Regions from separate parts of the Homo sapiens genome. Here region 2 is linked to region 1. Evidence: fine-mapped expression QTL. A gene starts in region 1. The other region holds a variant in brackets. All regions are shown on one strand. Distances are from middle to middle. Region 1 holds the start of TNIP2 (TNFAIP3 interacting protein 2). Region 2 overlaps FAM193A (family with sequence similarity 193 member A).

Region 1 (16,021 bases):
AAGAATTTAAAAAGGTTCTTAAAATGACAATTTTATTTTGAGATAGGGTCTCGCCCTGTCACCCAGGCTGGAGTACAGTGGTGCCACCATGGTTCACTGTAGCCTCCACCTCCCAGACTCAAGTGATCCTCTTGCCTCAGCACCCTAAGTAGTTGGATTACAAGTGCATGCCACCGTACCTGGCTAATTTCTGTATTTTTTGCAGAGACAAGGTTTCACCACTTTGCCCAGTCTGGTCCTGGACTTGAGTGATCCGCCTGCCTCAGCCTCCCAAAGTGCTGGGATTATAGGCACGAGCCACCACATCTGACCTGACAATTTTTTAATATCTGGCCTTAAATTTGTACTTTTCCGTTTTCAAAGAATCCTCCAAAATAAACAGTACATTACATGAAGGAGGTGAAGCAGGCTCAACTAGTCCATCCCACAAGTGAAGAAACAGTTTCAGAAAAGTCACGGAGGAGCCCAAGCTTCCCCCAGAAGTGGCGGGAGAAGGGTCCAGCCTCTGTGTCTAGTACTTGAGGTAAGAAGGGACAGAGACCGGGAACCTAGAATGTTCTCATCACAATGGAACAAAATACTAAGCCCTATTACTGCGAGAACCCTGATTATTATTATTATTATTATTATTATTATTATTATTTTATTATTTTAGAGACAGGGTCTCGCCCTGACACCGAGGCTGCAATACAGTGGTATAATCACAGCTCACCGAAGCCTTGAACTCCTGGGTCCAAGTGTTCCTCCCGTCTCAACCTCCCAAATAGCTGGGACCATGGGCTCGAGGTCAAGGCTGCAGTGTGCTGTGACGGTGCCACTGCACTCTAGCCTGGGTGACAGTGAGACCCTCTTCAGGGATAAAGGACTTTGAGCAAAACCTGACTTCTGGTTTTTTTTTTTTTTGATAAAGACAGGGTGTGGCTATGTTGCCTAGGCTGGTCTTGAACTCCTGGCCTCAAGCAATCCTCCTCCTGCCTCAGCAGGGGTCACCGTGCCCAGGTAAAATCTGATTTCGGAGCCTCCTTCCTGCGTTGGTCAAATGCTGACAGTAGGAGAAACAAACAGCTCCACAAACAGGAGGGCAGCATGTCCACAGCTCGTAGATCCTGAGGGCGTGGCTCTCTCTTGCCTCCACACCCTAGTACTCAACACTGAGCCCAGCCCCACACAGATGCCCAGTAAATGGGAATAAGACTGGGCCATACAGAGACAGATCAGGACGCAGGCTCTACGCTCAACCCGTGGGGGCAGGCCAGCCCTGCAAAGGGCTGCCCCACTCATCCTCCCCTCGGCAGCATGAGGGCCCCAGGACCCCTCCAGCCCCCGGGCTTCTGGCATTTGTCACTGGCTCTGAAGTTGCAGAGCTTTGTGCTGGTTTATCTGTCTGAGTGCCTTGTCCAGTTAGTAACAGTTCTTAGGACACAACAGCACCTCGACCACTGTGGTCAGAAAACAAGGTACGAGCTGGAGTTGTGGGTCTACACACACAGGCACAACACACAGACTAGTCAGCAACTGGGCTGACATCTCTCAGGAAAGCCTGTCGCCGGGACCCACAACTCCATAGCTCCACGCTCAGAACACAAAAGTGTAAACAGCTCTATTAATAGTCTTGTGGATTGGCCTTAAGAGGCACAGTGGCCTCTTGGCTTTTAGCGCTGCGGCAACAAAGTATCACAAACTTGGTGTCTTAAACAACAGAAGTGTATTCTCCCAAAGCCTGTAATCCCAGCACTTTGGGAGGCCGAGGTGGGAGGATCACTTGAGCCCAAGGGTTGGGACTAGCCTGGGCAACATGGCGAGACCTTGTCTCTACAAAAAATACAAAAAACATTAGCCAGGCATGGTGGTGGGCGTTTGTAGTCCCAGCTACTCGGGAGGCTGAGACAGGAGGATCACTTAAGCCCAGGAGGTCAAGGCTGCAGTGAGCTATGATCATGCTACTGCACTCCAGCCTGGGCAACAGAGTGACCCTGTCAAAAAGAGGGGAGGGGAGGGGAGGAGAAAGGAAGAAAGAAAGGAACAAGGAAGGTGGCCCGGGGCGGTGGCTCATGCCTGCAATCCCAGCACTTTGGGAGGCTGAGGTGGGTGGATCACGAGGTCAGGAGTTCAAGACCAGCCTGGCCAACATGGTGAAACCCCGCCTCTACTAAAGATACAAAAAATTAGCCAGGCGTGCTGGTGGGCGCCTGTAGTCCCAGCTACCCAGGAGGCTGAGGCAGGAGAATCGCTTGAACCCGGGAGGTGGAGGTTGCACTGAGCCAAGATCCCGCCACTGCACTCCAGCCTGGCGACAGAGCAAGACTCAGTTTAAAAAAAAAAAAAAAGGAACAAGGAAGGAAAGAAAGAAAAGAAGAGAAGAGAAAAGAAAAGAAAGAGCCAAGAAAACAAGCAAAGCAAAGCTAAGCTAAGCCGGAAGGGAAAGGGGGCTGATACGCCAGGACCAGGCAAAGCCTATGAAGCTGGTCCCGAGAATGGTGACAGGATGGGGTTGGGCAGGACCAGGTTGCACAATGAATTGGTGCCATTATTCCAGAAAGTATTAACTGGAGGGGCTTTGTAAAGTTATCCACTCAGGCCTTGTGTTACAGATGAGGTAAGGTCTCAAGTCCAGCTGTGGCTGCACTGAGGACCACAATTCTCTGGCCTGATCTTGCCCCATCACACACTGACCGCAGCTTGATCACAGACGCACTGGTCAGCTCCTCCACATTCTGAGCCTCAGCACTCTCTCTGGGAGCCCTCAGTCCCTACTGGTCCAGGGTTCCTGCTCCTAACGGGCTCTCATAGATGAGAGCAACCTAGCAACGGCTTGCTTCCTGCTGTGTCTTTAACTCTGCACTGCCACCTCAGTGAACCCAGGGCCTGCAGGAGGTGACAAACCTCTCCATTCTTCCACAGGTTCCATGACCGACCTCAGATTGAACGTTGGGATGAGCAATAAATATGTAATTGCATAAAATACCAGATAAGGCCAGCACAGTGGCTCACGCCTGTAATACCAGCACTTTGAGAGGCCGAGACAGGAGGATCCCTGGAGGCCAGGAGTTTGAGACCAGCTTGGGCAACATCATGCGACCCCTTCTCTACAAAAACTTAAGAAGTTAGCCAGGTGTGGTGGCTCATAGTCCTTGTGGTAGGCTCTTCGCCTATAGTCCTAGACACTCGGGAGGCTGTGATGGGAGGGCTGGTTGAGCCCAGGAGTTCAAGGTTACAGTGAGCTATGATGGCCCCAAGGCATTCCAGCCTAGGTGGCAGTGTCACAGACCAAGACCCTGTCTCTAAAAAAATAAAAATAAAAATAAAAAAACAAACAAACAAAACTAAATCATTAAAATGTTCCTTAAATAATTAAAAATCCCCCCATGCTGGGCGTGGTGGCTCATGCCTGTAATCCTAGCACTTTGGGAGGCCAAGGCAGGAGGATCACTTGAAGAAAGGAGTTCTAGACCAGCCTGGGCGACACAGCAAGATCCCGTCTCTACAAAAAAAAAATAAAATTAGCCAGGTGTGATGGCACACTCCTGTGGTCCCAGCTATATGGGAGGCTGAGGCAGGAGGATCACGTAAGCCCAGGAGGTTGAGGCCACAGTGAGCCATGTTTGTGCCACTGCACTCCAGCCTGGGTAACAGAGTGAGACCCTGTCTCAAAAAAATAAAAAAATAAAAATCCCAAAACAAAACCTACATGCTTACATGTTGGGAAGACAGGACCAGGGCCAGTAATACTGGGAACACAGAACTAATTCTATCTGAGGCTACCAGGAAGCTGCAATAAGCTGCTTGGTGAGTGGCCAGATACACAGGACACCAGGGAACACATGTGAGCGGAACACCAATGGCCACCGACTGCAAGTATACTGCTCTGGTTGTGAGGTCCCTGCATCCTGTCCCACCAACATTCTGGAGATGACTTCGGAGTGTCCTTCCGGGTCCTTGGTCTGTACTCATCTGTGGCTCCTGGCATCCACAACTCTAAAACCTGTTGGTGCAGACCAGGTGACCTCTAAACTTCCCTTCTGCTCTAGTGAGTCAGGATGTACCTTCCAGAAAGAGGGAGAGAGTGGAGTAGGGGAGACACTGGCTGCTGAAAGTATTTTAAATGATGTAGATACTGACAACCTAATATTAAGTACAACTGTATACACAGCATGAAAACAACCATGCCAAGTGTACACACACCTTATACACAGAGGAAAAACAGGAAGAAGGCATGCCAAGAGATTAACACTAGTCATCCCTGCACTGTGGGACTACAGCGGCTATTTTATTCTTTATTTTTCAGATATTCAAAATTGTTTTATAATTTTTTTTCTTTTTTAAAAAGGGCATGTTTCTTTTTCTCTCTAAAATCAGGCTGTGGGGCCAACCCTGGAGACAAAAACTATCTTTCGCAGACTACTGCCTTTGCAGGCTTAGTTTCTTTCCTGGGCAAACTAGGATAATAGCCATGAATCAAATGGAATAATAGATGCCAGAGCTCACCCGAATGTTTCAGATGCTTGCAAATACTATTGCACAAAAAAACTGTTACTTATACTGCTGTTGTGGTGTTATAGTTTATCATCAAAAAACAGACATAAACATCATAGACAAGGACAAAGAGAAGAAAGTCAGGATTTGCGTCTTTTTTTGTTTGTTTTTGAGACGGAGTCTCGCTCTGTCGCCCAGGCTGGAGTGCAGTGGCACAATCTCGGCTCACTGCAAGCTCCGCCGCCCGGGTTCATGCCATTCTCCTGCCTCCGCCTCCCAAGTAGCTGGGACTACAGGCGCCCGCCACCACGCCCAGCTAATTTTTTGTATTTTTAGTAGAGATGGGTTTTCACCATGTTAGCCAGGATGGTCTCAATCTCCTGACCTCGTGATCCGCCGCCTTGGCCTCCCAAAGTGCTGGGATTACAGGCATGAGCCACCGCGTCCGGACCCTTGTGTCCATTTTTAATTTAATTTTTTCAGACAAGGTCTCACTTTGTCACCCAGGTTGGAGTGCAGTGGTGCGATCTTGGCTCACTGCAACCTCTGCCTCCCAGGCTCAAGTGATCCTCCCACCTAAGTCTCCCTAGTGGCTGGGAGCACGGGCACGTGCCACCATGCCCGGCTAATTTTTTGCACTTTTTGTAGACAGGGTTTCACCATGTTGCTCAGCCTTGTCTCGAACTCCTGGGCTCAGGCAATCTGCCCGCCTTGCCTCCGAAAGTACTGGGATTACAGGCGTGAGCCACTGCACCCAGCCTAGGATTTGTGTCCTTTATCAGACACGGGCTGCATTTGCCATTGCTCCCAGCATAGAGTTGAAGCGCCACTAGTGAAAGACACATGCATGGGTGAGGGCTGGAAGGGACTCTAGAACACAATATGAGTACACGACCTTGGACCCAAGACACACATGTGTGCGTACACACACACACCATACACACCCCTCAGAATGTGTCTCCCGCACACACACCTCAAAACACCCCTAAGAACCAACCGGAACATACACACTACACAATACACACAGAATACACACAGCATACACACACCCCCCTCGGAATGTGTTCCCACACACGAACCTCAAAATACCCCTAAGAGCCCACCTGAACATACACCACACACACACAGAACCCAAGAACTGCACCAACCCCCCTCCTCAGAACCCAGTGCCTCCTCACCATCCCCCAGGACCCAGTGCCCTCCCAACCCCCCAGGATCCAGCATTCGCTTATCCCCTTCAGAACCTTGCACCCTCACCCCGCAGGACCCAGAGCCCCCTCACCTCCACCAGCACCTGGTGACGCCTCAAACCCCCCAGGACCCAGCACACCTCAGCCCGTGGTGTCCCCTTATCCCACTCAGGACCTGGTCCCCCTCTCTCCCCTAGGACCCAGGGTCCCCTCACCCCCCAGAAGCTGTTGCCCTATCACCCCCAGGACCCGACGGCCCCTTACCCCCAGGACCTAGTGTCCCTCAACCCCAGGACCCGGCACCCCCTCAACCCCCAGGACCTGATGCTCCCCCAACCCCTCAGGAGCCGGGGCCCCCTCACCCCCAGGACCCGGCACCCCCTCAACTCCCAGGACCTGGTGCTCCCCCAACCCCTCAGGACCCGAGGCCAACTCAACCCCAGGACCCAGTACCCCCTCAACCCCTCAGGACCCGGGGCCCGCTCGCTCACCCACCCAGGACCCGGCGGCCGCCACACGCACTCTCGCTCCCGCAGCTCCTCTGGTACCCGCCCTCGTACCTGGCGCATCTGGGCCTCGGCGGCGCCGCCCTCCTGCCTTCGCAGCTGCTCCCGGAAGCGCGCAACCTGCTCCAGCAGCGCGTCCACTAGGGACGGCGCGGCGTCCCCCTCCAGCGCGGCCAGGCGGGCGCGGAGGCGAGCGATGAGGGCGTCGCGGGCAGCGAGCTGGTCCTGCAGGCGGCGCAGCCGCTGTCCGGCCTCGTGGTACAGGGTGCAGAGCGCGGCAGCTGCGCGCGGGGCCTCCTCCCAGCCGCCCGACCCCGGGTCCCGGGACATGGCTGTAGGCCCGCCCGGGAGGCCGCGCGGCCGCCGGCAACTTCCGCGCCCGGGCCCCGCCGGCTGCCGCCCTTCCCGGAACTTTCCCCGGTGCGCCCCGCCCACCCACAACAGCCCGGCCCCGCCCTCCCCCACGCAGCCCCGCCCCCCGCGCAGCCCCGCCCTTCCCCGCGCAGCCCCGCCCGACGGCAGCCCGCCCAGCCCCTTCTCGCCCGGCCCCACCCCTCCCACCGCCTACAGCCCGGCCCCGCCCCTGCCGTCCGCACCCGTCCGGGAGAGTTGGCCTGGCCCCCGAGGCTGTCCACACCCCAGCTGGTGCTGGGCTTATTCCAGTGGCCCCAAACATCCGCCTCTGAGGAGTTGTCGGAGAGTCGAACTCAGCCCAGGAGTTTGGGGATTCATCAGCCTCTGATGGAAAGGAAGGGCTTAACGACAACCCCCAAGCTCTGGAGCTAAGTGTGGGTCTGAATCTCCCCGCGAGGGTCCAGGCCTTGCGGCCACAGCAGCAACAGAAGCTCCAGGAGCTGAGCTCGCAGCGCACCAAGCACGTGGCATGTGTTCCGTCACCTGGGGACACTGAGCCCAGAAAGAGCTCCAACCCCCTGCCCCGCACGCCGCTTTCTTTTTTCTTTCCTTTTTTTTCTTCTTTTTGAGACGGAGTTTCGCTCTGTTGCCCAGGCTGGAGTGTAATGGCGCGATCTCGGCTCACTACAACCTCCGCCTCCCAGTTTCAAGCGATTCTCCTGCCTCAGCCTCCTGAGTAGCTGGGATTACAGGCGCCCGCCACCATGCCCTGCTAATTTTTTGGTATTATTAGTAGAGATGGTGTTTCACCATGTTGGCCAGGCTGGTCTTGAACTCCTGACCTCAGGTAGATCCACCGGCCTCAGCCTCCCAAAGTGCTGGGATTACAGGCGTCAGCCACTGCAGACGCTGCTTTGTAAGGTGGCTAGTATGGGCCCACGGGACAACCTTCCTGCTAGATGCTGTTCTTATATAGCAGAAGCAGCAGGAAACCAGCCCCTTCCCACCCTTTCGCTTTTCCATCCCTTTCCTTCCCCAAAATTCCCAGACAAACGCTAGTGTTTTTCCACAGCCCAGTCTTCCCCACAATGATGCCCAAGCACACATGGGGTCTTTCCAAGGTTCCCTACTCAGGATAGGGCAGGGGTCTTCCCTGTGTGTGCACTTGCCCACAGGCTCCGCCCCTGAGCAGCTTCTTGACTTTCTTCCCTTATGTGATCCACAGCCAAGCCTGAGCTGAGCCTGGGAAAACACAAGCTTGTAGAATCAGACAAGCCTATAAGCAAAGCCAGAGCCACCCAAGTGCTTATGGCCCGGACATTGGGCTACACAGGCCTGGCTTTGCTATGGAAGGCTCCTTCTTACTCATCAGAGCCTGGGCTTCCTCTCAGCAGAAGGAAGGGCAGAGCGAGTGCCCACCCTACCTGGTTGGGCTGTTGTGGGGACTAGAGGGTGGAGTGTGCATGGAATGCTTGTCCAGTGCAGTGGCTGCTGCACAGCAAGCCTACAGTCCCCATGGCTATGGTTACAAACAATGCCTATTGATTGTCTGGGGCATGAGTGGAAAAAACAAAACTGGACCCAGAGCTGTTAGAGGCTAATGTGTGGCCTGGGGCACGTCATTCCAGTGACCTACCTTGAGCCTCTGCCTCAACTGTAAAAGGTGCATGTGACAATCCACAGTCTCTCATCCAACAACAGCCTTGGGGTCAGGTGTGGTGTATTGTATTGTATTGTACTGTACTGTATCGTATTGATTTATTTTAGACGGAGTCTCAATCTGTCGCCCAGGCTGGAGTGCAGTGGTGTGATTTTTGGCTCATTGCAACCTCCGCCTCCCAGGTTCAAGTGATTCTCCCACCTCAGCCTCCCAATTAGCTGGGATTACAGGCGCCCGCCACCACGCCTGGCTAATTTTTTGTATTTTAGTAGAGACGGGGTTTCACCATATTGGTCAGGCTGGTCTCGAACTCCCGGCCTCAAGTGATCCGCCTGCCTCGGCCTCCCAAAGTGCTGGGATTGTAGGCGTGAGCCACCACGCCAGGCCGCCATGTGTATTTTAGAAATGAGGATCTTTGGATTTCAAATAGGTACATATAACTGGGGGAGCCAGCTTTCAAAGAGGATCCCCTCCTTCCAATATCCATGCTCCTGTGTAGTCCCCTCCAATCCACTGGAGAGGGCTGACCTGGGTAACTAAGAGGGTACTGCAGAAATGATGGAGTGTGACTTCTGCAGCTAGCTCCCACAAGACATCACGGCTACTGCCTTGCCCTCTTTCGGAGCATTCTCTCTGGGGGAAGCCACCCACCCTATCATCAAGTAACCCTGTGAAGAGGTCCATGTGGCAAGGAACTGAGGCTTCATGGCAGCAGCCGGCGCCCACTTGCCCACTGTGGTGAAGAAGCCACTTTGGGACTGTATCCTCCGACCCTAGTCAAGCCTTCAGAAGACAGTAGCCCCCACTGACATACTGACTGTGACTCCATGGAAGACCCCGGGCCAGGACCGCCCAGCTAAACTGCTCTGAGTCCCTGACCACAGAAACTGGATGAGATAATATATGCTTATTGTTTTAAGCTACTAACATTTGGGATAGTTTGTTCTGCAGCAATGGAAAATGAACAGCTAAAATCTGACTTAGTGCTCCCACTGGGACATGGTACAGCACCACAAAACCAGACAGATTACAATTTCTGCAAAGACAGGGTGACCATTCAGACTGCGAGATGAATGAAGATCAGAAAAAGCCTTGTAGCTGTTGAAGTCAGATTTTGTACCACCTTTAAGAAAAACATTTTGGGGCCAGGTGCAGTGGCTCATGCCTGTAATCCCAGCACTTAGGGAGGCCAAGGCAGGAGGATCTCTTGAGCCCAGAAGTTGGAGCCCAGCCTGGGCAACATAGCAAAACCCCATCTCTACAAAAAGTTAAAAGAAACTAGGTGGGTGTGATGGTGTGTGCCAGTAGTCCCAGATACTCAGGAGGCTGAGATAGGATTGCTTGAGGCAGGGGTTTGAGGCTGCAGTAAATGGTGATTGTGCCACTGCTCTCCAGCCTGGGCCACACAGTGAGACCCTGTCTCTGAGAAAAAAAAGAAAGAAAGAAAACTATTTTGGGTTTCTGAGCTTTTTAGATTTCAGAATTGCGGATGAGGGATCCCAGACCTCCAAGAACACTTGTCTTAGAGGGTGTTGTAAATATTCAGTAAGGTCACATGGGAAGTGCCCAGCATGCTCTTGCCTTCAATGCAAATTTAGGTACTGGGCCAGGCACTGGGGACTCATGTGTGGACATTGTAATAGTGGAGACAGATCCTTTTCCAAAACAAGAATAATTGCAACGTAAGGAAATTTTGTGTAAGGAAAGGAAGGGGAAAATGTGTATAAGAAAACAACAGGCTGGGTGCGGTGGCTCACACCTGTAATCCCAGCACTTTGGGAGACCAAGGCAGGCAGGACTCCTGAGGTCAGGAGTTCGAGACCACTCTGGCCAACATGGTGAAACCCTGTCTCTACTAAAAATACAAAAATTAGCCAGGCATGGTGGCGGGTGCCTGTAACCCCAGCTAGTCGGGAGGCTGAGGCAGGAGAATCGCTTGAACCCGGGAGGCAGAGGTTGCAGTGAGCCAAGATAGCGCCATTGCACTCCATCCTGGGTGACACAGCGAGACTCCCTCTCAAAAAAAAAAAAAAAAAAAAAAAAAAGGAGGAACCTAACTTTAAAGAGGGTGATTAGAGACAAGATAACAGTCCAGCTCTGCAACCTAAAGGGTGAGAAGGAGCCAGGCATGAGAGTTGGCTGAGTGAGTTCACAACTGGGTATGGCCTAGAGTTGGGCAGGAGCTGATACAGGGAGCAATTTCTTTCTTTTCCTTCCCTCCCTCCCTCCCTCCCTCTTTCTTTCCGCATTCTCTTTCTTTGTTTCTTTCGAGACAGCATTTCACTCTGTCACTCAAGCTGGAGTGCAATGCTGCGATCTCAGCTGCAACCTCTGCCTCCTGGGTTCAAGTGATTCTCCTTCCTCAGCCTCCTGAGTAGCTGGGATTACAGGCACGTGCCACCATGCCTGGTTAATTTTTGTATTTTTAGTAGAGATGGGGTTTCACCATGTTGGCCAGGCTGGTATCAAACTCCTGACTTCAAGTGATCTGCCTGCCTTGGCCTCCCAAAATGCTGGGATTACAGGCGTGAGCCACCGCGCCCAGCCAGCATTCACTTTCTGTGTTCTGAAACTCATCTAGATTTGTGCAGGATGGGGCTAGTGCAGCAGGCCTAGTGTGTTCAACCCTGCATGTTCCAAAAAAGGGACTGGCCCTAGACCTTTTGGAATATCCCACCTGATAAGAGTGTCTTTGCTTATGTGGGGGCCTTGGACCACACCAGCTAGTCTAAGCTAACTTGAGGCCTTGGGTCATGAGCTTGAGCTCTGAAGGAGCTGGAGACCGAGTAACTCAGGTCAGCCATATGGGCACTCCCCGCCTATGTGATCAACCCCTAACCACAGCTCTGGACACAAAGTCTCAGGTGAGCTTCCCAGTTTGGCAACACTCCCAGTACTGTTGGGAGAGCGATATCCTGTGGGTACTTGCACCTGGTCTCCCCGCCGGGCCCGCTCTATGTGCCTTATTTTTCCTTTGCCGATTTTCTTCTGTGTCCTTTTGCTGTAATGAATAACTGTGAGTCCTTCTACTGAATCGTCAAACCTGAGGACTGTCTTGACAACAGGGCTTTTTGCAGCAAATGTGTATTTGTGCTAGATGGACTGTTGCTCCCAGCTTTTTACCACCTCCCGCCACGCCCTTTTGCCGTGTGACTTTGGGCACCTGCCCTGGAGTAGACCAAGTCTGTCCCCACCTGCTCGAGGCTGCATGGCCAGTGGATATCAGCAGAGATCATGCAAGAGAAGGCCTAATGCGAGACACCAGCACCCCAGAGCAGCAAAGCCCTGGGTAGCTACTAATCCCAGAATGGGTGGGTAGAGTAAACGTGAGCCCCACCCACAGATGAAGCTGCTGAGGCCTGCGTGGTCCACTGGCCCTGCTGTTTTCAGACCCATCTGCACCCCTTTCTCCGGCTCACTGTAGACCAGTCATTCTGAAAGAGCCCATGAAAAACACCAAGTTCTCTCCTGCCTCAGGACTTTGTACCTGCTGCTTCAGTGCCTGGAATACTGACTCCTTCCCATGAAAAACACCAAGTTCTCTCCTGCCTCAGGACTTTGTACCTGCTGCTTCAGTGCCTGGAATACTGACTCCTTCCCATGAAAAACACCAAGTTCTCTCCTGCCTCAGGACTTTGTGCCTGCTGCTTCAGTGCCTGGAATACTCATTCCTTCCATTGTTTGCACAAGCACCGCCAGGGGGTGGGGCTCACAGAGGCGCACTGCGGCAGGAACTGGATGTGGGTGTCAAGGTGGTCACAGAACAGACGGCTGGGTCAGCTCCCCAAGGAGAAGCCCTGAGCTGCCCAACAGGTCCCTCTTAGGCCCCACACTTCAGAGGCAGGGCTGCCACGCATGCCTCCTGGATCACCTCTTGGTGTCCCATGGCCCCTGTGGGGCTCCTACCTGGCACATCCTCACCTCCAGGCTCCCCCGGCTCCAACTCAGCAGGGAGGTGGGAGGTTGACGGGAGCAGGCAGGCATGGGAGGGCTCAGCCGGGGTATGAGGGGTGGGCAGAGTCCCCCCACCTGGCTCACCCTTTCTCTTCCTCTCCTCCTCTGGGCACCTTCTTTGACTCCCACAGGCTCCTAGCTCAGACCTCTCCACTCTTCCTGGCTTTCCTTCAGGGAGGTCAGGAAAGTCAGGGACCCGTGGATAAAGACCAGGAGAACACAATGTAAGTATCTGGGCAAAGAACCTCTTAGGCAGAGGGCTTGGCGAGTGCAGAGCCCCAGGGACCTGTGCAGGGCCTGATCAAGACCCTTGGAGGAGTCCAGGGGTGGCTAGAGTGCAGCAAGCAGGGGAGGGACTGGAGTAGCCATAGAAGGGACCAGGACAGACTGAGCCCCAAACGTCCCCCTTGCCTGGCCCAGCCCATGTGTTTCCGGTATTGGTGGGTTCTTGGTCTCACTGACTTCAAGAATGAAGCTGTGGACCCTGGCAATGAGTGTTACAGCTCTTAAAGGCAGCGTGTCCGGAGTTTGTTCCTTCTGATGTTCAGATGTGTTCGGAGTTTTTTCCTTCTGGTGGGGTTCGTGGTCTCACTGGCTCAGGAGTGAAGCTGCGGACCTTCGCGGTGAGTGTCACAACTCTTAAGGTGGTGCGTCTGGAGTTGTTCGTTCCTCCCGGTGGGTTCGCGGTCTCACTGGCTTCAAGAGTGAAGCTGCAGACCTTCAACAAATGAGTGTTACAGCTCGTAAACACGGTGTGGACCCAAAGACTAAAAGAACAAAGCTTCCACAATGTGGTAAGGGTACCCCAGCGGGTTGCCGCTCCTGGCTCGGGCAGCCTTCTTTTATTCTCTTATCTGACCCCACCCACATCCTGCTGATTGGTAGAGCCGAGTGGTCTGTTTTCACAGGGTGCTGATTGGTGTGTTTACAATCCCTGAGCTAGACACAAAGGTTCTTCACGTCCCCGCCAGATTAGCTAGATACATTGTCGATTGGTGCATTCACAAACCCTGAGCTAGACACAGGGTGCTGATTGGTGTGTTTACGAACCTTGAGCTAGATACAGAGTACCGATTGGTGAATTTACAATCCCTTAGCTAGACATAAAGGTTCTCCACGTCCCCACCAGACTCAGGAGCCCAGCTGGCTTCACCCAGTGAATGTGGAGCTGCCTGCCAGTCCCGCACCGTGCACCCGCACTCCTCAGCCCTTGGGTGGTTGATGGGACTAGGCGCCGTGGAGCGGGGGCGGCGCTCGTCAGGGAGGCTCGGGCTGCACAGGAGCCCACGGAGGAGCGGGGGAGGCTCAGGCATGGCGGGCTGCAGGTTCCGAGCCCCGCCCCGCGGGAATGCAGCTAAGGCCCGGCGAGAAATTGAGCACAGCAGCTGCTGGCCCAGGTGCTAAGCCCCTCACTGCCTGTGGCCGGTGGGGCCGGCTGGCTGCTCCGAGTGCAGGGTCCGCCGAGCCCACGAACCCCACCAGAAGGAAGAAACTCTGAACACGTCCGAACATCAGAAGGAACAAACTCCAGACACACCGCCTTTAAGAACTGTAACACCGCGAGGGTCCGCGGCTTCATTCCTGAAGTCAGTGAGATCAAGAACCCACCAATTCCGGACACACATGGGGATGCTAGGCCAAAACCCGTAAGAGCCGGCCGGCCTCCAGGAGGGGCAGGGGTCTTCCCCTACACAGGGGTCCCGGCTCAGGGCCGCTGCCCTTCCCCGCAGCTCCAGTGCCCCGGGACCTTGGGAAATCATCCTGCTCTTTGTCCTGACCTGAGCCAATGCATTTGCCTTGTCGAGCCCTTAGGAGCAGAAAAGCGTAGGCGAGCAGCTGGCAGCCACCATCGCATTTGCTCCCGGAAGGCAAGAGGAGGCAGAGAAAATTCCAGAACCCATTTAAGCGTCTGGGACCCTGAGGTAACCATGAGCTACTGGCAGGCCGGGGGACACAGCGGGTACAGAAGGGGTCTCTGGAGTTTCGTGAGGAAGTATTCGGGCTGTGCGGCGCCGCGACCCTGGCAGGACGCTGCTGTCCCGCCAGCGAAAGCGGGGCGCGCTCAGGGCTGCGGGCAGCGGGGGTGCAGCGGGGAGAGCCAGGGCCTGGGCGCGGAGGAGGGGCTGGTATGGGACCCTCCGGGTGGGCGCGGCCCCGCGGGGCCTTGCGGCCACACCGCCACCGTGCCCAGCGGCCCCATCAGCGCATATTCAGGATGAACCCCGGACACGCGCCCAGAACCGTCTGGTGACCCAGTGATGAAAGCTCGAATCTTATAGGATCCGTATTCATTTCCCGTGGGCTCAAGCCCAGCCTCCGCGGGCGGCGCGGGCCCTCGCGGCGAGTGTCCACGAGGAGGCGGTGTGGACCCGCGGCCCCAGACCAGGCCTCAGGCAGAAGGCGAGCGCGAGCGCCCCGCCCAGCCCCTCCCCGTCCCGCAACCCGCGCCCCGACCAGCGCCCCCAGCACCTCTCCACCCTCGCTCTCGAGCAGTCTCCACGTTTGTCTCAGAGGAGACCCACTTTGCTCCCCAGCGTGGGCCCCTGAGCGCTGGGGGAAGTTGGTTGGTTTGTTAATGACAGAGTCTCGCTCTGTTGCCCAGGCTGGAGTGCAATGGTGCAATCTCAGCTCACTGCAACCTCCGTCTCCCGGGTTCAAGCGATTCTCCTGCCTCAGCCTCCCGAGTAGCTGGAATTACAGTGCACGCCACTACGCCCGGCTAATTTTTGTATTTTTAGCAGTGACGGGGTTTTGCCATGTTGGCCAGGCTGGTCTTTTTTTTTTTTTTTTTAAACTAGATGTTTCCTTTATTCATTCACACACTTAAGTAACATAGACTTATAATTTGTAACAAATAGAACAGAGGTTACACATATAAGACAAAAATCTTGAGTTTGAAAACTTTATTATCTGGCTGTTTTGTCAACATGATAATTTCATATACAACCACGTAAAAACATCTCTGGTGTTTAGATTTTTCCGTTTATTCTAGCTGTTTCATATTTGTAGACGTAGCCATGGCATGTACAGAATATGCATAGCAACAGGACTTTCATATAATATAGTACAGTTGGAAAAAAACACTATCTTGCTAGGGAGATATGTCAAGTAGATTCTAGTTTCCACATTATTTTGATTTTACTGTATTTAACTTTGTATATATTTTACATGTATTAAATGTTTTGATGAAACATTTCAAACTCTATATTAGAAATGTTGGCAAACATTAGTATCTATAAAATATAATCTGTATATATTGTATAATCTGGATATAAATATCCAGAAATCTGTCATATTTTTATACCAATTACAATGGTCAAAGTTGACACTATTCTTAAATATACTTAATGATTATCTGGATTATCTCCATATCTATTTTTGGCCCTCTTTTGCCATCCATACGTGAAGTATAATGATCCTTATTCTTTATGGCATTTTTTTTTTTTTTTTGACGGAGTCTGGCTCTGTCACCCAGGCCAGAGTGTGCAGTGGCGTGATCTTGGCTCACTGCAAGCTCCACCTCCTGGGTTCACGCTATTCTCCTGCCTCAGCCTCCTGAGTAGCTGGGACTACAGGCGCCCGCCACTACACCCGGCTAATTTTTTGTATTTTTAGTAGAGACGGGGTTTCAGCACGTTAGCCAGGATGGTCCCGATCTCCTGACCTCGTGATCTGCCCGCCTCGGCCTCCCAAAGTGCTGGGATTACAGGCATGAGCCACCGCGCCTGGCCCCTATTTTTATTTTTTGAGACAAGGTCTGGCTTTGTCGCCCACACTGGAGGGAGTGGTGTCATCTCGGCTTACTGCAACCTCTACCTCCCAGGATCAAGCAATCCTCCCACCTCAGCCTCCTGAGTAGCTGGGACTACAGGTGTGTTCCACGA
Region 2 (16,021 bases), 100 kb before region 1:
ATTACAGGAGTGAGCCACCACGCCTGGTCCAGGTAGGAGGTTTTTTAAGTCCAGGAGCTGTTTACTGAGCACTCTGCTGTTGAGAGCTCATTGTCCATCTGTCCTAGTCTAGAAGGGAGTGCAGACACATGCACAGGTGGCAGGTGGCTCACCAGGTGGAAGACAGAAGAGGGAGGGCACCTGCTGGAGGTGGATCTGAAGGGAGGGCACTCAGGCAGCCCAAGCCTGTCAGACAGAGCAGGGCTTTGAGACGGCGCCCCCTCCCCCCGCTTCCCACCCCTGGCCTGCCTGCTCTCCTAAAGCAGGGTTGGGCCAGGAAGGAATTGAGAGCGGCCCTGGTTTAAAGATGACACTAGTGTGAGCAAGGGTAAAGAAGGAATGACTGAGTTTCTCTTTTGCACTTCGGAGACTCTCTGTAGGAAAATGGAACCTGGGCTCTAGCCTAAGACATGTGCTGGTTCCATGTCTGCCCTGGCATGGTGAGTGCCATGTGGATGCCACCTGTGGCTCCTTGTCAGTGTTCCTTGTCAGTGCTGTGAGGGACTGGGAAGAAGGAAGGGACTAGCATGTGCTTGCTCCCTCCGAGAATTGTGTCATTGATTTCACAGCTACAGGCCGTGTTTTCTGTTGCTGTTCTCTACTGCAGCCACAGGGACTAGAGCTACAAATGGTCTGTTGTTTGGATTTTCGCGGGTTTTCTCTTACTCCATTCTTCTGCATTCTCAGCCTCCCAAAGTACTGGGATTACATTTGTGAGCCACTGCGCCTGGCCTGCTGGCTTTTTTTGAACCTGCATCAGCTTCAGTGGAGTAAGTTCCAACTTCGTCACATGCGGAATTCTGTGCTGTTGAGCTTGTCTTAGGGCAGGTGGCCCTGAGACTCTCCCATGACTCTGCGCCTCTTCCTTGGCTGCTGTACGCACAGCACGTCAGGGTGAGGAGGGGCCTCAGAGATCACTTTGGTCCTGGGAGACTCCCTCTGTGTCCTGTGCCTCATGGTGGGGCCTGAGAGAGCAGTTGCTGTTTTGTGTTTTCTTCAAAGTGGGTGTATTCCTAATTCATGTTTTTGTCTGTTTTTGCAACCAGAGACTTTCCTGCTGTGGCTTGTCACTGACCAGCGACTTCTTAGCCTGGACTACTGTGAGAGCAGGGTCTGGATGCCAGGTGGGGAGGGCAGAGTCTCCTGCTGCAGCAGCACCTCAGCAGCCTTCATCTCGTGAGGCCTGGAGCATCCCAGGGGCTGCAGCTGTGCCATGTGGGGGCAGCACAGCAGAGAGGGCGCTGAAAGCTGCATTCCCCTCTGCCATCTGTGGGTGCACCAGCCCATTTTCACAAGTTTGCTGTTCTGGTAGAGGGAGCAGGAGTTGGGGGAAGCTAGGACAGTGGGCATTAACCTTCTCCAGGAAGTGGGCATCTTCGGCAGAGGCTCTTCAGGGCTGTGGCCGTGCAGGAGGGCCAGTAGTGTGTCCAGGTCACCACTCCCTGGGATGTTCTTGACTTGGGTCCCAGGGAGAACCCTGCACGGCAGTCAACACCAGAATGTCCCGGATCTGCCCCATGAGTCTTTTCCCTCCCTACCTGCAAAATGAGATAATTATGTTAGGTGATGTTTTAGTGTTGTGTGAGCTTTTAATTCCAAATAAGTTTTTTCTGTGTTATTTTTAAAAAGTAAAACTGGCCAGGTGCAGTGGCTCACACCTATAATTTCAGCACTTTGGGAGGCTAAGGTGGGAGGATCACTTGAGCCCAGGAGTTTGAGACCAGCCTGGGCAACATAGTGAGACCTTGTCTCTACAAAAAATTAAAAAATTAGCCAGGCTGGGTGCCGTGTGTTTGTGGTTCCGGCCACTCCAGAGAGTGAGTGGGGGAGGATCACTTAAGACCAAGAGTTAGAGGCTGCAGTGATCTATGATGGTGCCACTGCACTGCAGCCTGGGTGACAGAGTGAGACCCTGTCTGAAAAAAAAAAAAAAAAAGCCAGGCTTAGTGGCTCACACCTGTATTCCTAGCACTTTGGGAGGCTGAGGCAGGTGGATTACTTGAGCCCAGAAGTTTGAGATCAGCCTGGGTGACATAGATAGACCTTGTCTCTACAAAAATACAAAAATTAGCCTGCCATGGTAGTGTGCACTTGTGGTTTCAGCTACTCGGGAGGCTGAGATGGGAGGATCACTTGAGCCTAGGAGGTTGAGGCTGTGGTGAGCTATGATCATGCCACCACACTCCATCCTGGGCAACAGTGAGACCCTATCTCAAAAAATGAAAAAAATATATAGGCATAGGGACAGTAAATAGTCCCTGTGTTGGTATTGCACTGTGGGCTGCTGGTTACTGGGTGCCCCACAGAGCAGGGGTCCCTAACCCTTGGGTCACAGACCAGTACTAGTCCATGGCCTGTTAGGAACCAGGCTGCACAGCAGGAGGTGAGTGGCCGGTGAGCCAGTGAAGCCTGTCAGTGTTTATAGCCACTCCCTATTGCTTGCATTACCGCCTGAACTTCTCATGTCCGATCAGCAGAGACATTAGATCCTCACAGAAGCATGAACCCTATTGTGAACTGCGTGTGCAAGGGATCTAGATTGTACGCTCCTCATGAGAATCTAATGCCTGATGATCTGTCACTGTCTCCCATCACCCCTAGATGGGACCATCTAGTTGAAGGAAAACAAGCTCAGGGCTCCCACTAATTGTGCATTGTGGTGAGTTGTATAATTATTTCATTCTATATGACAGTGTAATAATAATAGAAACAAAGTGCACAATAAATGTGATGAGCTTGAATCATCCCAGAACCATCCCCTTGCCTCACCTGGTCTGTGGAAAAGTTGTCTTCCATGAAATCGGTCCCTGGTCCTAAAAAGGTTGGGGACCACTGCTCTAGAGCACATCCCATGGCACCCACGCAGGGTGGTTTATTGAGAGCACAGAAGGAGGGAGGAGCATGAGATCTCAGGCCATCAGTAGACACTGTGAAGGAAAGACCTTGAGAAGGAAAACAGAAGGCGAGGGGCCGGCTTTCCTGCCCGGCTCACTCTCGTCACCGGGGCTCAAGGGAACGAAGCGCACCTGCTCTGGCCTCACGGGTGCGGTAGGGGAAGCCAAGACCACCCTGGCTGGGGGCAGAGATGGGAGCTCAGGGCTCTGAAGCCCAGGGAGAGGCTGCTGTGCAGGGCGGGGTTTCAAGACTCCCAGAGAGGCTGCTTGTGGGAAGCACGTGAAAGGCTCCTTAATCCAAGAGTGTCTCTGTTGACGACATAGTGCCACCTGCTAAGTCTCTGTCTTGCCAACATGAGCTGCAGTCAAGTTGTATTGCATTAGGTCATTGAAACCTCCCAAGTGCATAGGACCCTGCCTACCTTTACCAAGGACCGCATAAAAAAAGAGGAGCCCCAAGCACCTTCTGGGTAGGCATGGATAGCCGCCCACGGTACACTCTAATGGCAGCAACGGTATTTGCCTTTGGCCCAGAGAACGCTGTCTCAGGGCCCTCCTCCACAGTCTTGTTAGTGTTTGTAGCAGTAACAGACGTGCAGATGGAGAAGCTGAGTGTTGGTGAATCCACTGGAGGGTGGCATCAGACCTGGAGGGGTGTGTGTATCAGTCCATTTTCACACTGCTATAAAGAACTACCTGAGACCGGGCTTGATACTCACCCCTGTAATCCCAGCACTTAGGGAGGCCAAGGTGGGCGGATCACCTGAGGTCGGGAGTTCAAGACCAGCCTGGCCAGCATGGAGAAACCCCGTCTCTACTAAAAATACAAAATTAGCCGAGCGTGGTGGCACATGCCTGTAATCTCACCTACTCAGGAGGCTGAGGCAGGAGAGTCACTTGAACCTGGGAGGCAGAGGTTGGGGTGAGCTGAGATCATGCCATTGCACTCCAGCCTAGGCAACAAGAGTGAAACTCTGTCTCAAAAAAAAACCAATAAAACAAAAAACCTACCTGATTCTGGGTAATTTATAAAGAACAGAGATTTCATTGATTCACAGTTCCGCATGGCTGGGGAGGCCTTAGGAAACTTATAATCATGGCGGAAGGAGAAGAAGAGGCAAGGCACGTCTTACACAGTGGCAGGAGAGAGAGAGCAAGAGGGGAAATGCCACACTTCTGAGCCATCACATCTTGTGAGAACTCGCTATCATGAGAACAGCATGGGGGAAATCCGCCCCCATGATCCCATCACCTCCCACCAGGTTCCTCCCCTGACATGTGGGGATTACAGTTTGACATGAGATTTGGGTGGGGACAAAGGTGAACCATATCAATGTGACAGGTTGACATGACGTCACGGCAGACGTGGAAGGTCCTGTAATCAGGGTGTGGTAGCAGCCTCGCTGCCTGTCCTCAGGACAGCTCTGACCAGACTGGATCCCCCTGGCAGGGAAGCATAAGAGGTTGCTGGCCTGAGTCGTCAAGAAGTGACCATTGTGAAGCAGACATTCAGCTCGTCCCAGACAGCCCCCAGGAGGAGAGTCCAGACCCCGTGTAGATGTGTGTGATCAGAAAGAGTCCCTTGCAAGGGTCGTTCGAAGGCAGAGTGGGCTGTAGTGTGGAGATGAGTTCCCCATGATAGGGAATGTGGAGAATAGTTGGAGAGGTATTTGGACTAGGTGACCATGAGGTCTCATCTCAGATTTCATTTCAGGGACACATCTGTCCCTGACTGGGGCTGGTGGCCTCTGTGCCTGGTATTCATTGTTTACCAGGGATTTGCAGAGTACCCTTCATGGGAGGCACTTGTCTGCAAGTCTAAGTGCAAATCAGCCTTGCCTGTCAACAAAGATGACTTGGGTGTGTCGGTGCTTCCTGTCCTGGTGTTGAACAGGAGACGCTGGCCTATTGCAGAGAAGCTTTGAGTCTGGAAGCTTTTCTGAATGGAACTCCCACCTCCCTTTCTCCTGCATTTGGTGTTTTTCTTCTGTAGGATTGATGCTGTTCACTTGATTTATCCCTGGTGTATTAGTCCATTCTTGCATTGCTATAAAGAAATACCTGAGACTGGATAATTTATAAAGAAAAGCAGTTTAATTGGCTCACGGTTCTGTGGCTGTGTAGGAAGCATGGCTGGGAGGCCTCGGGAAACTTACAATCATGGTGGAAGGTGAAGGGGAAGCCAGCACATCTTACGTGGCTGGAGTAGGAGGAAGGGGGGTGGGGAGGTGCTACACACTTTTAAACAACCAGATCTTCTGAGCACTCGCTATCACGAGAACAGCACCTTCGGGGAAATCTGCCCCCATGATCTGATCACCTCCCACCAGGCCCCATCTCCAACAATGGGGATTACAGTTTGACATGAGATTTGGGCGGGGACACAAATCTAAGCCATATCACCTGGCTTTCCCTTCATGTATCGATATAAGTTTCTGAGGTTGTGAATAACTTGTAACCTTCAGGTGACTTCAGAAAAATAGTATAGTTAGTGATAACATAGGGAAAAAGATGAAAGAGAAGGAAGATGAACCGTTACCGAGTGCTGTGCCAAACCCCGTGTGGCTAGAGCCTCACTACTGCTTCCTGGTGTTACCACATCTGCAGATGACAGGAGGCTCCCGAGGGTCTCAGCCAGGCAGGCCTGTTGGGGTTTAGGTCAGCGGTGTCCTACGTAGCATAACATCCTGCCCCTAAGAGCCTGGGGTGCTGTCCTTAGTTCCACATGTGATGGAAATGGCAGATAAAGTTCTAGTTTCAGAGATTCATTTCTCCAATTGAACTGTAACTAAACACAAAAATGCCCTTAGGGAAATTCTTTTACTAAGACTGAAAAATCCTTTGGGAATAGTAATTTCTTCAGGTATCTGTTTCTTGAAGGTAAACATTTATTTTGAAATATTATATATGGTATTATTGCTGTTGTTCTAGGGAAAATGGTATATATGTAAAAATAACACATACATGTTCTCTCTAGGGAGAAAATAACAGTGTCACTTAAAAAGTAAAGTGTATTTCTTTAAAATTGCATGTTACATTGCTTTTACAAAGAGAAAACCAGTCTCTTCACTAAAGCAACCAGAAGATGCTTTTTATTTTTATTTATTTTTTTTTAGACAGAGTCTCTCTCTGTCACCAGGCTGGAGTGCAGTGGTGTGATCTTGGCTCACTGCAACCTCTGCCTCCTGGGTTCAAGCAATTCTCCTGCCTCAGCCTCCCGAGTAGTAGGGACTACAGGCGCCCGCCACCACGCCCGGCTAATTTTTGTATTTGTAGTAGAGACAAGGTTTCACCCTGTTGGCCAGGATGGTCTAGATCTCTTGACCTCATCATCCACCCACCTCAGCCTCCCAAAGTGCTGGGATTACAGGCGTGAGCCACCATGCCCAGCCAGGAGATGCATTTTTATTTTCACTGTCTTGTGAAGAAACCATGAGAAACAATCTGCCACTAATACAATTGAGGGAAATTGAGCCACTTTAGTAACATCCAGAGAATAATAGTCATTCTGGAACCATGTATGCATGGGTGGGAGGTTGTGGGGAGCTGAAAACAACAGAAATTTATGCTCACAGTTCTTGAGGCCAGAAGTTCAGAATCAGTATGTCAGCAGGGCTATGTTCCCCTGAAGGCTTTGGGGGCAACTGCAGTGACCCCTGGAGTTCTTGGTTTGTGGCCACTCCACTCTCCACTGGAGCTGTTTTAATGCACTATTTAATTTAAAACCTTTGAATGAACATTGGTTGCTTCTAATCAATAACATTTTAGAAATTTTATACTGATTCAAAGGCTTTAAAATGTTGAATACGTGTAAAATAATTGAGTCTCTGTTCACAAATAAGTATGTATGTATGTGGCAAGAGAGTTGGTAGGTTTTGTTTGTTTGTTTGAGATGGAGTCTTACTCTCTCAACTAGGCGGTGGTGTCATCTCAGCTCACTGCAACCTCTGCCTGCTGGGCTCAAGCAGCCCTCCCACCTCAGCCTCCAGAGTAGCTGGGATCACAGCGCACACCACCATGCCTGGCTAATTTTTTTTTTTTTTTTTTTTTTTGTATTTTTGGTAGAGACGGGGTTTCACCGTGTTGCCCAGGCTGGAAGTTTGAAATCAATTATTTTTATGTTTGCTGTCTGAAATTCATTCTTTCTCTGTTGTTTGACACATACATAAGCCTGCAGGTACCCAAATTTGTTCCAAAAAAAAAAAAATTTCCCTGAGGCTGTGAGGAGAGAGTCAAGGAAGAGGTTTTTATTGATGTTATTTATCAAACAACTCTTACACTGTACACTAAGATTTTATAATAACTGCAGACATATACAATGAAAAGGGAGAATTGGCACCAATATTGAATCTTCCCATCCAAGAATATGGTATGTCACTCTTTTTTAAGGTTTTTAAAAATATATTGTATTATGGTTTTATAGTTTGTAAATCTTGACCCATTTTGTGCCTCCATAGTCTGTAGTTTGAGGGGCTGCTATGACCGGCATCTTGAGTGGGGAATGTGTGTTTAAAGCATTCATGCTGGAAACTGGGAAAATGGAGATGCCCTGTGACCAGTCATCTCGCCAGATGCCGGCATTAACTCTTGTAGTTTTTGAGTTGAGTCTTGAATCTGGGAGTCTAGGAAATCACGGTATCTTCTACAAATAATGATAGGTTTATCTCATCTTTTCCAGCATTTGTCCCCTTTTTTTGGCTTCCACTAGGACCTTCAGACCAGTGTGAATAAGAGCATTGATACTGGCACCCTTGTCCAGTCCTGGCTTCGAGGGGCTGCTGTGAGTGTTTCACCATGAAGTTTGATGCTTGCCATACAGACTTTTGATACTTTCTAGCAAATTAAAGAAGTTTACCTTTATTTCTAGTTGATTTAGGCTATCATTTAAAAAATAAAACAGGAAGATGTCAAAATTGATGGTATGATTTTTCTTATATCAATTTCTGTATGAGTTAAGAGTTTAGGTTACCTAATTTTGAGACATTCTTGCGTTCCTGGGATGAAACCCTAGTAGATCATGATATGTCATTCTTTATTCCATTATTAAATTTATTAGCTGATATTTGATTTAGGACGTGTGTGTGTGTGCGTGTGCGCCTGTGTGTGTGTGTGTGTGTATTCGGACAGCTATATAAAATTATTTTTAGAGACAGGGTTTCACACTGCTGGCCAGGCTGGAGTGCAATGACAAGATATTAGTTCTCTGCAGCCTCGAACTCCTGGGCTCAAGCTCTCCTCCCACTTCAGCCTCCTGAGTAGCTAGGACCATAGGCACATGCCAGTGTGCCAGCTAAGTTTTGGCTTGGTGCAGTGGCTCACAGCTGTAATCCCAGCACTTTGGGAGGCCAAAGCAGAAGGATCGCTTGAGCCCAGGAGTTTGAG[G/A]CCAACCTGGGCAACATAGGGAGAACCCCATCTCTACAAGGAAAAAAAAATTAGCCAGGTGTGGTGGTGTGTGCCTGTGGTCCTAGCTACTTGGGAGGCTGAGGTGGGAGGATCATAGGCCCAGGAGGTTGAGGCTACAGTAAGTTGTGATCATACCACTGTAGTCCAGCCTTGGTGACAGAGCAAGAGACCTTGTCTCAAAGATAATTTTATTTACAAACAAATGAAATTTTTTGTAGCGGTGGGGGTCTTGCCTTGTTACCTAGACTGTTCTCAAATTCCTGGCCTCAAGTGATCCTCCTGCTTTGGCCTACCAAAGTGCTGGGATTACAGGTGTGAGCCACTGCATCCAGCCAGGACTTTTATATCTATATTCTGAGGTATAATTGAGTTGTCTTGGTCTTTGAGGTCTTACTTGTTTTGTATAAAGGTTGTGCTAGCTTCATAGAATGAATTGAGAAACTCTGTGTTTTTGCAATTTTCAGGAATAGTTTAAATTTTCTGTCCCATGAAGGGTTTGATAGAACCTACCGTAAAACTTTGGGGCCTAATTCATTTTTACAGGGAAGAAGAACAAGAACTATAGATCTTGTCTGCCTTTTTCATTTATATGACATTTATTAGTGTATTTCAGGTTTCCTTCTCCCTCGAGTCAGTTTTACAAATAGAATTTGGCTCAAGAAGTTATCCATATCGTTTAGTAAAGGGTTGTAAACTCACACCTGCAGGGCTAGGGAAAGTCACGGAAATGGATGATACAGGGTAGAGCGGCCCCAGCGTTCCTGTGGTGCTCATGGCCGTCACCACCCTCACCTTGAAAGTGCCCTCAGTTGGGATAGGCCCTAGTGGAGCCTGGGGCATGGGTAGCGAAGGCCACACCTGTGTGTGCGTGCGTGTGTCCTCCTGTTCTCTGTTAGGGGCAGTCCCCACTTGGGTCCAACAGTCTTCACAGGGCCACCAGAGCTGCCAGGTTGTCAAGAGAAGCCAGAAATCTGGATTATTAGGTGAAATCTCGAACACTTTTAAAAAGAGGTGAAGTGCAAGTCGGACAAAATAGCCCATGAGCCCCTTGTTTGTAACTCTTCTTTAGATGTTACAAAGTATCAACTTATAAAGAGACTTTGTCTCACAGTTTAAAAACAATCTTCTGGCCAGGCGGGCACAGTGGCTCACGCTTATAATCCCAGCACTTTGGGAGGCCGAGGCAGGTGGATCACTTGAGGCCAGGAGTTCCAGACCAGCCTGGCCAACATGGTGAAACACCGTCTCTAGTAAAAATAGAAAAATGAGCTGGGCGTGGTGGCGGGCACCTATAATCCCAGCTAACTCAGGAGGCTGAAGCACAAGAATCGCTTGAACCCAGGAGGCAGAGGTTGCATTGAGCCGAGATTGTGCCACTGCACTCCAGCTTGGGTGATATAGCGAGACTCAGTCTCAAAAACAAAACAAAACAATCTTCATATGTACCCATATCCTTTCTCAATCCTGATTTTTTTTTAATGTTACCTTTTTCCCCCTTTTTCAGCCTTGACAGAAGCTTACAGAACCGACTTTCGGTTTTATTAATCACATATGCTTCTCTGTTTCCTCAGTAATTTCTCTTTTTGCCTTTAACTCCTAACTTCTTTGTTAGTTTTGTTTTGCTTTGCTTTTTAAGTCTCATATGCCTGTTAATAGCTCTTCCTTTCCTGTAGTCTGAGCTCTTCGTGTGGCAGGACCGAGTTGCCATCATCTTGCTTATTTCTAACACATTCAGGGCACATAATGGGCATTCAGTAAATAGTGAATGTTCATCCACTGTATTGACAGATTTAGTCAGAATATCTTGATTTCTCTTTTTACTGTTTATTCATCTCTGTCTTTCATGTGAGAAAAGTACTTGTGATGAGTTTGAGTAAAATAAAGAAATACCTGTTAACATATTTGTAGTATTGTATCTTTATTCTGTTTGCAGATGATGTTTCTCTCATATATATCATTTTAAGAAAGTCTCCTCTTGAAAATGTCTTGTATAATTGTCGCAGGTATTAAAGTTTTTCTTTTTTTTCTGTTTTTTACATCCCCTTACTAGATGACAATGAAAACCAAGCAGCGCATGTTAACAGAAGACTGGGAGCTTTTTAAACAAAGAAGATTCATTGAAGAACAGGTAAGCTTGTCAATAAGAGAGGCAATTAAAGGAAGTAGAAATCTGTCCTGACAGCAAATGACTTCTCTGCATGTTGATGTGCTTTGTTAGAACAGCATTGGAGGACCACATTGGCATGTTTTGCCAGCGTTAAAAACTGTTCAAGATGGTGTTTTTAATCTCAAGATAAACTAATTTTCACCTATTTCCTTATCTTCCATATACGCCTCAAGAAAAACCCATGTGTATTGAGTGGCCTCTCTATCCCACAGCAGCTCTGGGTATTTTGCAAAGGATATTACCTGAGTCCCCACAGTCCCCTATGAGGCAGATGGTGCCATCTGCAGTTTACATATGAAGGAGGGTGTTAGGGTGAGGTTAAGGATGTTGCCTGATGTCCCAGAGCTGGAATGGGGGCCCAGCATCCCCAGACAGAGCGCTCAGATCTCCAGACATTGCCAGGTGCCATGCCTTCAACATGGCAGCTGGCAGATCTGGACTCTCCCTTCCTCATCTTCCTGGCGGTGCCTCCTCCAGGCAGGCTTGTGCTCCACCTTTGCTGGAGCTGTTGGGCAGAGCTTGCTAGTGATGTCCTGTATCTGGTCTGGGGGCCCTTGGCTTCATCTGGAAACTTGGCTTCCCCTGATCTCCCATCCACGTGCCACATCGACTCTCTTCCTGTTCTCTGACACTTCTCTCCATCTCCTTTACGAACTCCAACTTCATTGGTCTTTCTGCAAATATTGGTGGTTCCCTGGCCTTGACCCCATGCCTGTCTCCACATTTGCATGCCCGTGGTCTCCTCTGGGCACCACAGGTATACAGATGGCACCAGTGTTGTGGCATGCTTACCTCTTCCCTTTCCCCATTCTGCATGTGTCCCTGTGCTTTTGTTGTTGTTGTTGTTTTGAGACAAAGTCTCACTCTGTCGTCCAGGCTGAAGTGCAGTGGCGTGAACTCGGCTCACTGCAACCTCTGCCTCCCGGGTTCAAGCGGTACTCGTGTCTCAGCCTCCTGAGTAGCTGGGATTACAGGTGCCAGCCACCACGCCTGGCTAATTTTTGTATTTTTAGTAGAGATGGGGTTTCACCATGTTGGCCAGGCTGGTCTCAAACTCCTGACCTCAGGTGATCCGCCTGCCTCTGCCTCCCAAGGTGCTGGGATTACAGGCGTGAGCCACCTTTCCCGGCCATCCCGTCCTTTTGAGTGGCCCTTCCAGCTGCCACCTGTCCCATTGCCAGAGTGGGTCCAGAGTTCCTTCTCCTTTGAAATGCAGATGCTCACCTTGTCTGTTAGAAGTTGAGGTGCCATTTCCTCAATAGCTCCGAGGCCGACCCCTTGCCCTCCACGTGCCACTTTTCATTCCTACAGCTCTGTTCTCAGTACCTTGCAAGTACCAAGCACATGGCAGACAGGGTAAAGGCCGGGTTTCTGCATCAGGTGTGTGCTGTGAGGGCGCACTGCAGCATGTTTGCTGAAGACAAAAGCGATTAGGGTCTCCTGGTACCCGAGCCCTTTGCAGCTCAGCCCCCAGCTTGCTGCCGACTCCAGGTCTGCTGCCCCTGTATTCCTGGTCCTGTCCCGCTGAGGAAGCAGTGCCCGTGAACATGATACATGTCAGCAGAATTACTGAAAAATAATGAGCCATGTCTCGGGGAAGGGTCTTGCAAGATTAAAGCATTTTAAAATTTCCTCTAGTTAACCAATAAGAAAGCAGTTACTGGCGAGAACAACTTCACAGACACCATGAGGCACATGTTATCGTCCCGGCTGAGCATGCCCGACTGCCCCAACTGCAACTACAGGAGAAGGTAAGGCTGGGTTGTGGTGTCAGCACGACTGGCCCATTGGACCTTCACTGGGCTGAGTGGAGGCCTAGAACCGACCCTTAGAGAGCATGGTCTAGTCTTGTGCATTGGTTGGCTTGGTAACTGTCCTTAATTCCTGATCAGATGTGCTTGCGATGACTGCAGTCTCTCACACATCCTCACGTGTGGTATCATGGACCCCCCCGTCACTGATGACATCCACATTCACCAGCTCCCACTTCAAGTGGATCCTGCTCCTGACTATCTTGCTGAGAGGAGCCCGCCCAGTGTGTCATCTGCAAGCTCGGGGTCCGGCTCCAGCTCTCCCATCACAATTCAGCAGCACCCCAGGCTCATCCTCACAGACAGTGGCTCGGCACCAACTTTGTAAGTTGTGACTTTGTAATAAAGTTTCCGAAATTTAAGTCGCCCCAGTAATGAGAAATACATACAGTAATGTCCACAGAAGTATGAACATCATTATTGTGCTTTTCATGACAAGGGACCCTGAGGTTTTTAATGCAGCTTTTAAAACATGAAATCAGTAAACCCAAACTTTTAACACTGTTTATCTGGGAAAAAAAAAACATGGTAAATTAATAAAGGCCAGTAAAGAAAAAACATGTTGGTATGCAGAGAAGAAGTGTCTCTAATTCCGGCCTCACATCTCCTCATTCTCCTAAAGGGTGACCAGTCCGCCGTCTGTCCTGTCTCCCTGTCAGCCCAGCACTCATGCTTGTTTCATGTCTTGCTAAGAACTCAGGTGATCGCTTTAGCAAGCAGTTGAAGGTTTCTGTTTTTCATGTTCCCGCATGATTAGAAGTACATTGTTGTGCAGCTGTCACCAATTCACATTGTAGTTGGCTGTTCCCAGATTTCTTCAGAGTTGTGACCCTGTCATTTGGGGAGGCTTCACATGCTAATTTCCAAAAGGGTTGCACTTGATCATATGTAGTTGCCAAAGTCAGCTTAGGTTTAGTTTACGTGTATCGTAGAGCACACAGGCATCATGTTCCATGTGGAAGTGTGCAGTGGGAGAGATTGTTGTTCCTGACCTTGGCTATGCAGCGTTTCTGGGATTTCTCTGACCAACTGACTTGTGTTCATTCCTTCTGTCTGGATTTCTCATGGTGACTGACGTTTTCCTTCAGTCTTTCCATTTTCAATTTGGGCTTGTTCTCAGACAAAATAATTCTGAAAGGACTGGTTTAAACTCACTGACTCTCTTCATACAAAGATTGCAGGCTGCTGTTTATTGCCTTAGAGACACTGTGTACTCTCCAGGGCACAAGAAAGAGTGTTGACATTTTTGCAGCTGGCTGTTATCCAACTTCTTACTGAAACATAAAAATTAAACATATATAGCCTAATGAAAATTTAAGATGGAAAATTTCATCCCTGTTCATTTGTCACAGCTGCTGATGTCAGTTATGGTCTCTTGTGTCACGTGTGGTAGTGGAAGAAATTGGCTGTGGGAGCCTTTCTCCTTGGGCCGGAACTGCCCATCACCAGTTACGGGGAGCCTAGGTTCTCGGGACATCTGGGCCTTCAGCAGCTTGTGATCAATGTCTTCCAAATGTAAACTATGATTTGAAAATCTCCAGTGTTATCTTTTCATTTGTATTGTCTCTTTCTTGGTGCCTTTTCTAAGTTGGTTAAAAAGAACAATGTGATTGTAGTCAGTGTACCACACAGTACTTCCTGGATCTTATGGGTTGGATCTTTACGGAGCTAGGGCTGGTGAAGCCTCCTGCTGTCACATGGAGCAAATGGCTGAGTTACTTCACTAGAACCTCAGTTTTCTCATCTGTAAATTGTGCCTATGGTCATCCTCAGGAGTGTGTATGAGCATTGGCCCAGGCAGCGTCCCAGGTGCAGTGGGCCTGCAGGAAGCCCTAGGACTCTGCACCTTGTGGGTGCTGTTTGTACTTACCTCTGGTGAGCTCCAGACTCTAGCACGTTACTTGTAATGTGTTGAAAAGACACCGGAATTTGGTAGTCCTGGACACTCTTCACTCATTCTAGGAAGTGAGATCACGACGAGTTCCTAGGGTTTTGCCTTCTGGAGGTTGCTGTGTGCCCAGGCTGAAGATGGACTCAGTGCATGTTTTTGTGGACCTTGGAGCATCTTATTGCACTGAGCTTAAATGTGCCAGCTCTTTTAATGCACCAGAGCTGCATCTTAAGTGGTCTCTGTAGGCTAAAGCCTTGAAATCTGTTTAAAATTAATTTCAGGCCGGGTGCAGTGGCTGATGCCTGTAATCCCAGCACTTTGGGAGGCCGAGGCGGGCGGATCACGAGGTCAGGGGATTGAGACTATCCTGGCTAACACAGTGAAACCCCATCTCTACTAAAAATACAAAAAATCAGCCGGGCGTGGTGGCGGGTGCTTGTAGTCCCAGCTACTCGGGAGGCTGAGGCAGGGGAATGGCGTGAACCTGGGGGGTGGAGCTTGCAGTGAGCCGAGATTGTGCCACTGTACTCCAGCCTGGGAGACAGAGCAAGACACTGCCTCAAAAAAATAATAAAATAAAATAAAATTAATTTCAGTAAATTTTTCATTTGCCTGTTGCTTAGATGTCTTGCTAAAGCTGATATTTAATTACGATCATGAGTGACCAGGCCATGACTGGCCTTAAAGCAAAAAAAATTAGTCTTCTGTTACATAAGTGCCTTTAAAGTTTTGTTCAACTGACTATTTCTGAAAATTTCAGCCCTAAGTTGAAAAAGCAAACACTAAACAGCTAAGGTTTAAAAAGCAAACACTAAACACCTAAGGTTGCCATCGGTACCCCTTTAATTTTAATCACAAATTGTGTTGTCTTGGGAGTAGCAGAGAGACTAGTTTTATACCAGCGCTCTTCAGGTCAAATGGAAACGTTAATCAGTCTGGTTAAATTTTTGTAGTTTCCTTAATATTTCTACTTTTGGAGGTTTTTCTGTTTGTTTTTTGTTTTTTACTCTTCCAAATGGCACAAATGTTAATCTTCCAAGCATTTTTCTCATGTTGAGGTTACTAAGAAATGTTAGTGGTAGGAATGATACTTAACTAATACTCTTTGTAAATGAAAGCCGTGATCTGTCCAGGAAATATCTGTGCTTAGTGGCTGGTTTACTCATTGTCTTTCACAATTGAATGACCTCACAGTGACCATCTCTGCTTGTGTCAGTTGTAGTGATGATGAAGATGTTGCACCATTGTCAGCCAAATTTGCTGATATTTATCCATTGAGTAATTATGATGATACCGAGGTGGTGGCCAACATGAATGGAATCCACAGCGAATTGAATGGTGGCGGGGAAAACATGGCCCTGAAGGATGAGGTATGGACATGGCTTCTTCGTAGCAACAATAAATGACATAAAATGATGGTCTGACATTTTAATATTTTATATTACTCTGTTTTGAAAAGTGCAAATTACAAAAGATTGTCTTTAAAGTCTCCTCAGATAAGCAGTACCAGCAGTAGTTCCTCAGAAGCTGATGATGAAGAAGCGGACGGCGAGAGTAGTGGGGAGCCCCCAGGGGCCCCGAAGGAAGATGGAGTGCTGGGAAGCAGGAGCCCCAGGACAGAGGAGAGCAAAGCAGACAGTCCACCCCCATCCTACCCAACACAGCAGGTAGGACTTTGCTTGCTGTTTTGCCAAGGATCTCTTTTTCTGTGTGTATTTTCTCTAAACATGAGCATTACTGAATACAAAATTATTTTGTTTCCCATAATTTCTGAAGGTTAGAACTGAAGAGAGTCAAGGCATACTTACAATCTCCA

The links. PIP is the estimated chance that this variant, and not a neighbour inherited with it, causes the effect.
Region 2: its variant is the best candidate, but not a certain one, in a credible set for the expression of TNIP2 in whole blood (TOPMed, PIP 0.52).

What each region holds. Positions count from the first base shown.
Region 1 is chr4:2,749,791-2,765,811 of GRCh38, forward strand. TNIP2 (TNFAIP3 interacting protein 2) reads right to left here and starts at 6,546. Exons shown (of 6, transcript NM_024309.4): 1 at 6,224-6,546. The coding sequence starts at 6,499. It overlaps LOC102723763 (a long non-coding RNA gene), which reads left to right and starts at 11,942. Exons shown (of 3, transcript XR_001741552.2): 1 at 11,942-12,361; 2 at 13,950-14,059. RefSeq lists silencers at 6,089-6,148, 6,169-6,688, 6,869-7,008, 14,181-14,730 and enhancers at 11,794-12,618, 13,422-13,990.
Region 2 is chr4:2,647,417-2,663,437 of GRCh38, forward strand. FAM193A (family with sequence similarity 193 member A) reads left to right here. Exons shown (of 21, transcript NM_001366318.2): 8 at 10,387-10,464; 9 at 12,142-12,254; 10 at 12,396-12,638; 11 at 15,422-15,575; 12 at 15,693-15,872. Among named protein-coding and RNA genes, the nearest start is that of TNIP2, 100 kb to the right of the region's middle. RefSeq lists enhancers at 11,104-11,605, 11,606-12,105. The variant G/A (reference allele first, on the strand shown) is at 8,316.